2 separate regions of the Homo sapiens genome follow, and region 1 is linked to region 2. The links come from fine-mapping of genetic effects on gene expression. A gene starts in region 2. The other region holds a variant in brackets. All regions are shown on one strand. Distances are between the middles of the regions.

Region 1 (4,348 bases), 670 kb before region 2:
CACACCTGGCCAGTTTTTATATTTTTAGTAGACAAGAGTTTCACTATTTGGCCAAACTGGTCTCAAACTCCTGACCTCAGGTGATCCACCTGCCTTCATCTCCCAAAGTGCTGGGATTATAGGCATAAGCCACATCACCTGGCCCTGCTCCATCATTCTGATACATGGCTTTAGTAGATTTTGTCTTAGCCTTTCGTTGCCCCTTCTTTGTCAGCCACTGTTCCAGGGACTTATTGTCACTAATGAGAGAACATAGCGTCTGTCAGCTGTGGCATGGTAGAAAAAAGGTTGAGAATGATTGCTGTGGAGAGTGTGTTCAACCATAGAGGGACTCAGTTTTCTCATCATGAAAATTATGTGTAATTTAACTATATATTTTAGGTACCTAAATGCTATTTTAGGTATATCAAGCACAAGAACCCATTATAGAGAGTGGGTTTTTTCATTGTATTTCTGAGACTCCTCTCTTAGAATCATCTCTACCCGCATATCGTGTTTTCTTTTCTTCCTACAATTTTAGTACAGAGGAAAATCCCAAGAGAGAAGATTATTTTGGAATCACAAATCTTGTTGAACATCCAGCCCAGCTCAATCCTCCAGGTAATGTATAGATTCCTGAATCAAGTCTCTAGAGCAGCATTACCCATTGGAAATTTATACAGTGAGGAACATGTTCTGTATCTATGCTGTTCAATACAATAGCCACTACCCATGTGTAATTCTTTTTTTTAATTCAGTTTTTTTCCTGACAATAGTTTGTTGTTTGACCAGTGAACATACATTTTAAGTGCATATTCCTGTGCTTAGAATTTCATGAGACAGCCAAGCATGGTGGCTCATGCCTCTAATCCAAACACTTTCGGAGGCCAAGGCAGGAGGATTGCTTGAGGCCAAGAATTCAAGACCAGTCTGGGCAACACAGTGAGACCCATCTCAAGGAAAAAAAATTTGGCTGGGTATGGTGGCTTATGCCTGTAATCACTGCACTTTGGGAGGCTGAGGTGGGCAGATTGCTTGAGCTCAGGAGTTCGAGATCTAGGCAACATGGCAAAACCCCATCTCTACAAAAAATAAAAAATCAGCCGGGCATGGTGGTGTGCATCTGTAGTCCCAGCCTCTTGGGAGGCTGAGGTGTGGAGGATGGCTTGAGCCTGGGAGGTGGAAGTTGCAGTGAGCTGAGATGGTGCTGCTGCACTCCAGCCTGGATGATACTGCCAGACCTTGTCTCAAAAAAAAAAAAAAAAAAAAAAGAAGAAAGAAAGAAAGAAAAAAACCCAAAATTTCATGAAGCTTTACATTTACAGTTCCCTGGTTGTTCCTAGGAAAGAGCCCTCAGCTTGCTCCTTTTATAGAACCACATGTTGTTGTGGCATCCACAGCTAAATGCAAATGCAAGAGCCAAACTCTTGGGTTGGTGTGTTATTAGATGCGATATGCTCCACTACCCACTGTGAGGGATGCTAATTCCAAAGGGCTTTTTGTTAGTTTCCCAAAGTTGAAACTGGGAAACAAAGTTGCTTCTATTTTTTTTTTTTTTTTTTTTTTGAGGAGGAGTTTCGCTCTTGTGGTCCAGGCTGCAGTGCAACGGCATGATCTCAGCTCACCACAACCTCTGCCTCCTGGGTTCAAGCAATTCTCCTGCCTCAGCCTCCTGAGTAGCTGGGATTACAGGCATGTGCCACCACGCCCAGCTAATTTTGTATTTTTAGTAGAGACAGGGTTTCACCATGTTTGGTCAGGCTGGTCTTGAACTCCTGACCTCAGGTGATCTGCCAGCCTTGGCCTCCCAAAGTGCTGGGATTATAGGTGTGAGCCACCGCGCCCGGCCTTTTTTTTTTTTTTGAGTTGGAGTTTCGCTTTTGTCACCCAGGCTGGAGTGCAATGGCACTATCTCCGTTCACTGCAACTTTCACCCCCCTGGGTTGAAGCTATTCTCCGGCCTTAGCCTCCGGAGTAGCTTGGATTATAGGTGCCTGCCACCACACCTGGCTAGTTTTTGAACTTTTAGTAGAGACAGGGTTTTGCCATGTTGGTCATGCTTGTCTTGAACTCCTGACCTCAAGTGATCTGCCCACCTAGGCTTCCCAAAGTGCTGGGTTTACC[G/A]GCGTGAGCCACCGCACCTGGCCCTAATTTTGTTTTCTACATTTGCCAGGTATCATTGAATGAGGGGGTTTAACAGCTTAAAGGAAAACAACTAAGAACACTACTTAAGAAAGATAAGAGGCCAGGCGAGGTGGCTCATGCCTGTAATCCCAGCACTTTGGGAGGCCGAGGCGGGCAGATCACGAGGTCAAGAAATCAACACCATCCTGGCTAACAAGGTGAAACCCCGTCTCTACTAAAAATACAAAAATTAGCCAGACGTGGTGGCGGGTGCCTGTAGTCCCAGCTACTCAGGAGGCTGAGGCAGGAGAATGGTGTGAACCCAGGAGGCAGAGCTTGCAGTGAGCTGAGATTGCGCCACTGCACTCCAGCCTGGGCAGCAGAGCGAGACTCCGTCTCAACAAAAGGAAAGATAAGAATGTTTTTTAAAAACATAGCCATATTGCCGGGCACCAGGCCTGAACTGATTTTAATCTTACTGATCCCTTATTAACGAGTTTTCTTCATTTTCTATTTAAAGTTTATACACACACACACACACACACATGTTTTTTGAAATGGAGTCTCGCTGTGTTGCCAGGCTAGAGTGCAGTGGCAAGTGGCACAATCTCGGCTCACTGCAACCTCCACCTCCCGGATTCAAGTGATTCTCCTGCCTCAGCCTCCCGAGTAGCTGGGACTACAGGTGCGTGCCACCACGCCCAGCTAATTTTTGTATTTTTAGTGGAGTCAGGGTTTCACCATGTTGGCCAGGCTGGTCTCGATCTCTTGACCTCGTGATCTGCCCACCCGTGCCTCCCAAAGTGCTGGGATTACAGGTGTGATCCACCGCACCTGGCCTCAATATATTTTTTACATAAAATGTTTATAATAGAGTTGGGTCTCACTTGGTTGTCCAGGCTGGTCTCGAACTCTTGGGCTCACGCCATCCTCCCACCTTGGCCTATCAAAGTGCTAGAATTACAGGCATAAGCCACTGTGTCCAGCCTAAAGTTTCTTTTAATGATATTGATATTTACCTAGGTTTCTTTAATATTTTTATTGCTGTCCGGGCCTGGTGGCTCATGCCTGGCCAACATGGTGAAACCCCATCTCTACTAAAAATACAAACATTAGCCAGGCATGGTGGCGTGTGCCTGTAATCCTAGCTACTCGGGAGGCTGAGGCAGGAGAATTACTTGAACCCAGGAGGCAGAGGCTACAGTGAGCTGAGATCGTGCCATTGCACTCCAACCTGGGTGACAGAGTGAGAGAGAGAAAAAAAAAAAATATATATATATATATATGTATTCTTACTGCTTTGGTATACTAATATCTCTGCCTGACAGTTGACAATGACACACCAGTTACTCTGGGAGTATATCTTACCAAGAAGGAACAGAAAAAACTTCGGAGACAAACAAGGAGGGAAGCACAGAAGGAACTACAAGAAAAAGTCAGGCTGGGCCTGATGCCTCCTCCAGAACCCAAAGGTGCATTTCTCAGTGGCCTCTTCTGTTAAAAAGAGTGGCAAGTTTATGTCTTTAATCCTGGAGGAACTTTAACATCTCTGTGTTTGAGTGATTTCTGTTTCTAAGAATTATTCTTGGGGTCCTTTTTCTCCAAGTTTTCTACCATCTTTTCATATTAAGATAGGTCAACACATTCATTATAGAGGCCATTTATGGCTTATTTTTAAGCATACTGATCATACAACACTCTGGTTTTCCTGGAAGAATACAGGTCTTGAAATTCATGGAGATAGTAGTTGCAGTATTTGCGTAGACTTTTTATGTACATAATTCTTAATGTTTTAATTTTTACAATGAAAGTACAGGATAAAAAACTTGACCCTGTAGTTACATTCTCGTTCAGCAGTATTTTGACTGAGCACTATTATTTATAAGCTCTTTCACTAGATGCTGTGATCAGTGTGAAAAATATGAAAGGAATTAAGTTCCACGTCCTTCATAAATTTTCAGATAATGTAAATGCATACCAATCTTCAACTTAATTGTGTGAACTTCTGCAAATGCTGAAGTGATTGGATGGGATTTTCAAGATAGGAGTTATTGGAGGAAGTGAGTTTAGAGCAGAGATTTGAAATAGGTAAATAATATGAATTGGTATGGAAGAAATAACAAGTTACTCCAGCTGGAGAAGTGACTTCAAAGACTGATTGTTGTCCTCTCTTCACTGCAGTGAGAATTTCTAATTTGATGCGAGTATTAGGAACAGAAGCTGTTCAAGACCCCACGAAGGTAGA
Region 2 (4,390 bases):
GACTTAGCTCCTCTAAGCAATCCAGACTTGCAGACCAAAGGTGGAAGGACAGCAGGTGTCAGCTCCCCAAAGCTGGAGAGGAAATAGAGAAGGGTGGGAGAAGAGGTGAAGAAGATGATTAAAATAAAGTTTTTACCTTAAAGAAGGGGGTGCTGTTCCAAGATTGAGAAGGAGGGTTCAGCCGTGGCAATGAGATGGGGGAGATAGGTGCAATGAAGGGGGCTGCCAGTGCCAGCTGCCTTCCAGCTGTCAACGCCTGAGCTTATACAGGTTTACACAGCTTTATAAGCGACGGTCCAGGCTGGGTTGTGGCCACTTCCGGACTCACGCCCAGTACTGGGGGCACTGGAGGAGGGTGAAGGCAGGCAGGGACACAGCCAAGGTGCTCCAGGTCGCTCAGAGAGTCTTCAGGATTCCTGAGTCGCCGAGTCTATGGCATGCGCTCCGGGCCCTGACTACAAGCTGGTTTTCAAAGGAAGTTTGTGGTTTTTCTTTTCTTCTCTCTCTCTTTTTTGTTCTCATCAGGACGAAGAAAAATTAGGCAAGGACAAGCTCCCTGGAGGAGGAGGGGCCTGCCCAGCGCTGGTGGATTTCCATCAGGACTTTCTGACCCGGTCAGCAGCTTTGTGATCAGCAGAGAGGGAGCGAGAAACAGGAGAGAAAAACAACAGACCCTTTCTCTTCCCTCTGCCTGCCTCTAGAAGGGACGGAGCGCTTGTGCCTCTCTGGTGAGAATAGGGAAGAGCAAGTGCCCTTGCTAAGTAGGGAGGAGAAGGGCTGGACAGAAGCAGCTTGTTGGATCTGGGCTCTCTCTCTGGGTATGGCAGTCCTTTGCTCTGGATCCACAGAAGCAGGAGCAAAGAGCACGATATTTGCATGTATTACTCAATTAATGTTAAAAACAAACAAACAAACCCAGCTCTTTTCCCTCTGGAGCCCTCCAGAGAGCTCCTTTCCAAGTCCTTGCTGTATCATTTTTAAGTCTAGAAATGAAACTGGTTGGGTTGTGCACCTGGTAGAGTGCAGAGGGTGTGGTAGAAGCCCCAGGCTCTGGGCGCGATGGCTGACGCCTGTAATCCCAGCACTTTGGGAAGCCAAGGCGGGCGGATCACAAGGTCAAGAGATCAAGACCAACCTGGCCAACATAGTGAAACCCCATCTCTACTAAAAATACAAAAATTAGCAGGGCATGGTGGCACATGCCTGTAGTCCCAGCTACTCGGGAGGCTGAGGCAGGAGAATCGCTTGAACCCGGGAGGTGGAGGTTGCAGTGAGCCAAGATCCTGCCACTGCACTCCAGCCTGAAGACGGAGCAAGACTCCGTCTCAAAAAGAAGAAGAAGAAGAAAAGAACTGGCAGAGCAGGCAGGAGATCCAACACGCCTGTGCTCTGGATCTTGGTTCCACTGCAGGCCTCTCATCAGTCACCTCCTCTCGATTTACAGCTGGGGAAGCAGGAAAAGCTGGTGTGAGGCTGACGGTAGGAAATAAAGGGATAGATAAATAAATGAGGGAATTTTTGATGATGAGTGTCCATTTATTTGCAGTACCTGCACTACTCTGCGGCTGGAAAGTGGCAGTTAAGGGAGGTTGGAACCTAACTCCACATTCTGAAGGGTTCCCTAAACTCTATGTACAGGGCCGCCACAGGATGAAATTTCAAGCAACTCTAAAGGCTGAAAGAGCAATTGGAACAATTAGGGTGGCAGAGAGCAAAAAGCCAAGGTTACAACCGTCCAAGAAAGGAAGAAGATATTTGCCGAGGCTGTAGAAAAAAACAGGCTACAGAGTTGCAAAGGGAGAAGCAGCAGGAGTTGGCAGGAGACTGTAGGTGTTAACAAGAGGGGTCAAAGATTATTCTAATGTTCTCCTAACATGAACAACCACAAAATTGGTGGCGACTGAGTCAGTTTGGTAAAGGGCAGAATTTGTAGAAAGAAGATGATCTGTTTTGCCAAGTGTCATTTAAAATGTCACCAGATGCTCGGTGTGATATATGTAAAGATGTTATACTTGGCCTGATCTGAGAGGGAAAGTTCAGATGCCACAATAATGGGTTACTGTGACACATACACATTTGTTTACCGAACGACTGATCCCTCAGAAAACAATCCTTCCCTCGGTTGCTAGGGACATTGCGGAGTTGCGGGACTACGTTTCCCACGTCGCCCCACGCCACGCCCCCTTGGCCTCGCCGGAAAGACGTCCCAGGAGCCTCTGGGCGTAGAGCCCCGCCTCCGCCGCTGGGGGCGGGGCGACGCCGGACTCCGGAGCGCCCGCTTACGCAGTTCCTCCCGGGGTCGGAGGCCGATTCGCCGTGTGGCGGGTTCGAGTCCCGCCTCCTGACTCTGGCCTCTAGTCCCTGAGTCCCGGGCGGGCTGCATTCGTCGGGGAAACCTCTCCTCGACCAGGGGCACCTCTACTCGACCAGGGGCGACGGCGTACTTTGGGCTTCATCATGGAGGACTACCTGCAGGGTTGTCGAGCTGCTCTGCAGGTAACGAATCCCTGTCTGTGACTGTAAGGAATGGAGCACGGGGTCCAGGAAGGACGAAGACGTGGGATCTGGGGGAGCCTCGACGGTCCGTGTGGAGGGAACACTGAGTTGTGGGGAGGGGGGTTGGGGCCTGATCAGTTTTGGGGCATGAGGAGCGAGGAGCGAGAAGCCAGTTTAGGAGCGTGAGAATGCTGCTTGTTCAGTCTCCCGGTTTTTGGCTCCCCGCCTTTGGGGTCCGCCTGAGAGCGGGGAGAAGTCTTGGGTCTGAATCCTGCATTTGAGCCTCTGCTTGCTGTCATCTTGGTCAGTTCCATCAAAAAAACCAGGACTGTGCCGCCGCCAGCCTAGCCCCGCGAGGTGTGTTTATTCTTTTCTCCCCGCCCCTCTTTGAGTTCTCCGCTCCCAAGGCTTCGCTTGGCCCACTGGCCTCCAGGTGAACCTCGGGGGTGTGGAGGGAACCGGTGCTCACGGCCTTATTTCCTCCGAATGGCAGTTTCTGTCTGGCGGGCTGAACTCATTTCTAGGTTAGAAGTAGTCACAGTATTTTACTTTAAGTCAGTGTTTTTAAGCCAAACATACAAAATCCATCAGGCATATTTGTTGACCCACAACCAGCATTCCTTTGCCTCCAGGTTTCTCCTTTGGCCTTAACGCACACAAATGACATAAAAATTCTCCACTTGGAAGGGATAAGCACAAAGTGTGTTTGGAATCAAAACCATAAATATGACTACTCAATGCTTTGTGGCTTATTTTTGGTGCTCTCTGACTCAGTTGGACTCACCCAGCCATGCTGAGCCGTCATGAGGCATTAGGCTGTTATCCCCAGTTAGCAGCAAAAAGCTAACCAGAGACAGGCTCCAGGAGGTCACCCGGCCCCTCTACTTTGAGTTATACTGCCCTGAAGAAACCTAGATAGATGGCTTGCTGAGCTTTCCTTTTTAGATATCTTAAACTCTACAAATTCCCCTGAGGGACAGATTCTGGTCTTTAACAAATCCTGAAAGTCACTAATTCCTGCTGCAGACTCAGCTGCTGGAATAAATGAATTGTCTTCATATTGAATTGGGGAGAAGGTCCATTTTAACACCAATTACATAGACATTTTCCTTGTGAAAAACAAATTTGGGGAGTTATTTCAATGCATAAGGCCATTTGGAACCAATCCCTTTTTGTTACCTCTGAGTCCACCACAGGGCGCTTATTGGAGGACTAATGTAGAGTTTTTGGGGCACCGTTCTAAGTGCTAAACAGTTGGATTTTACCCCCCAGTAACCCAAATGACTGGTCTCTTCCACCATTTGGTAAAGTGCCCTTGGACCTGAAACCTCACCAAATAGTATTTCTTTGCATGCATCTACTCTCCAGCATATATCCTCCAGAGCCTCCCCCGACCCCCAGGTTAGTAGTATATTCTCTATTTTTATTTTGTATTTGTTTATTTATTTTCAGCCAGGGTCTCACTCTGTTGCCCTGGCTGGAGTGCAATGGTGTGATCACCTCCCCGGCTCAAGTGATCCTCCCACCTCAGCCTCCCGAAAAAGCTGCGACTATAGGCAGTGCCACCACGCAGGGCTAATTTTTTGTATTTTTATAGAGACAGGGTCTCGCCATGCTGCCCAATCTGGTTTCAAACTCCTGGACTCAAACAATCCCCCTGGCTTGGCTTCCCAAGGTGTTGGAATTACAGGTGTTAGCCACTGTACCCAGCCCGAATAGTATATTCTCTACAGCAATATGAAGCTGGAAAAATACTTGATTTTTCCAATACTGCTGGCATCTCGACCTTTCTCTCCCTGCATTCATCCCCCAAGGAGCAAGATCTAGATCTTCCTTTCAAACTTGTGAACTTGTGAAAGGTGAGATTGTGTCTTAGAGCTTGCATCATCACATA

What was found. PIP is the estimated chance that this variant, and not a neighbour inherited with it, causes the effect.
Region 1: its variant is the best candidate, but not a certain one, in a credible set for the expression of PRUNE1 in whole blood (TOPMed, PIP 0.59).

Annotation. Positions count from the first base shown.
Region 1 is chr1:150,339,878-150,344,225 of GRCh38, forward strand. PRPF3 (pre-mRNA processing factor 3) reads left to right here. Exons shown (of 16, transcript NM_004698.4): 9 at 521-600; 10 at 3,432-3,575; 11 at 4,285-4,348. Among named protein-coding and RNA genes, the nearest start is that of PRPF3, 21 kb to the left of the region's middle. The variant G/A (reference allele first, on the strand shown) is at 2,104.
Region 2 is chr1:151,006,176-151,010,565 of GRCh38, forward strand. PRUNE1 (prune exopolyphosphatase 1) reads left to right here and starts at 2,274. Exons shown (of 8, transcript NM_021222.3): 1 at 2,274-2,496. The coding sequence starts at 2,458. MINDY1 (MINDY lysine 48 deubiquitinase 1) reads right to left here and starts at 727. Exons shown (of 10, transcript NM_001376665.1): 1 at 137-727. RefSeq lists enhancers at 1-222, 453-632, 2,125-2,667, 2,668-3,208, 2,864-2,913.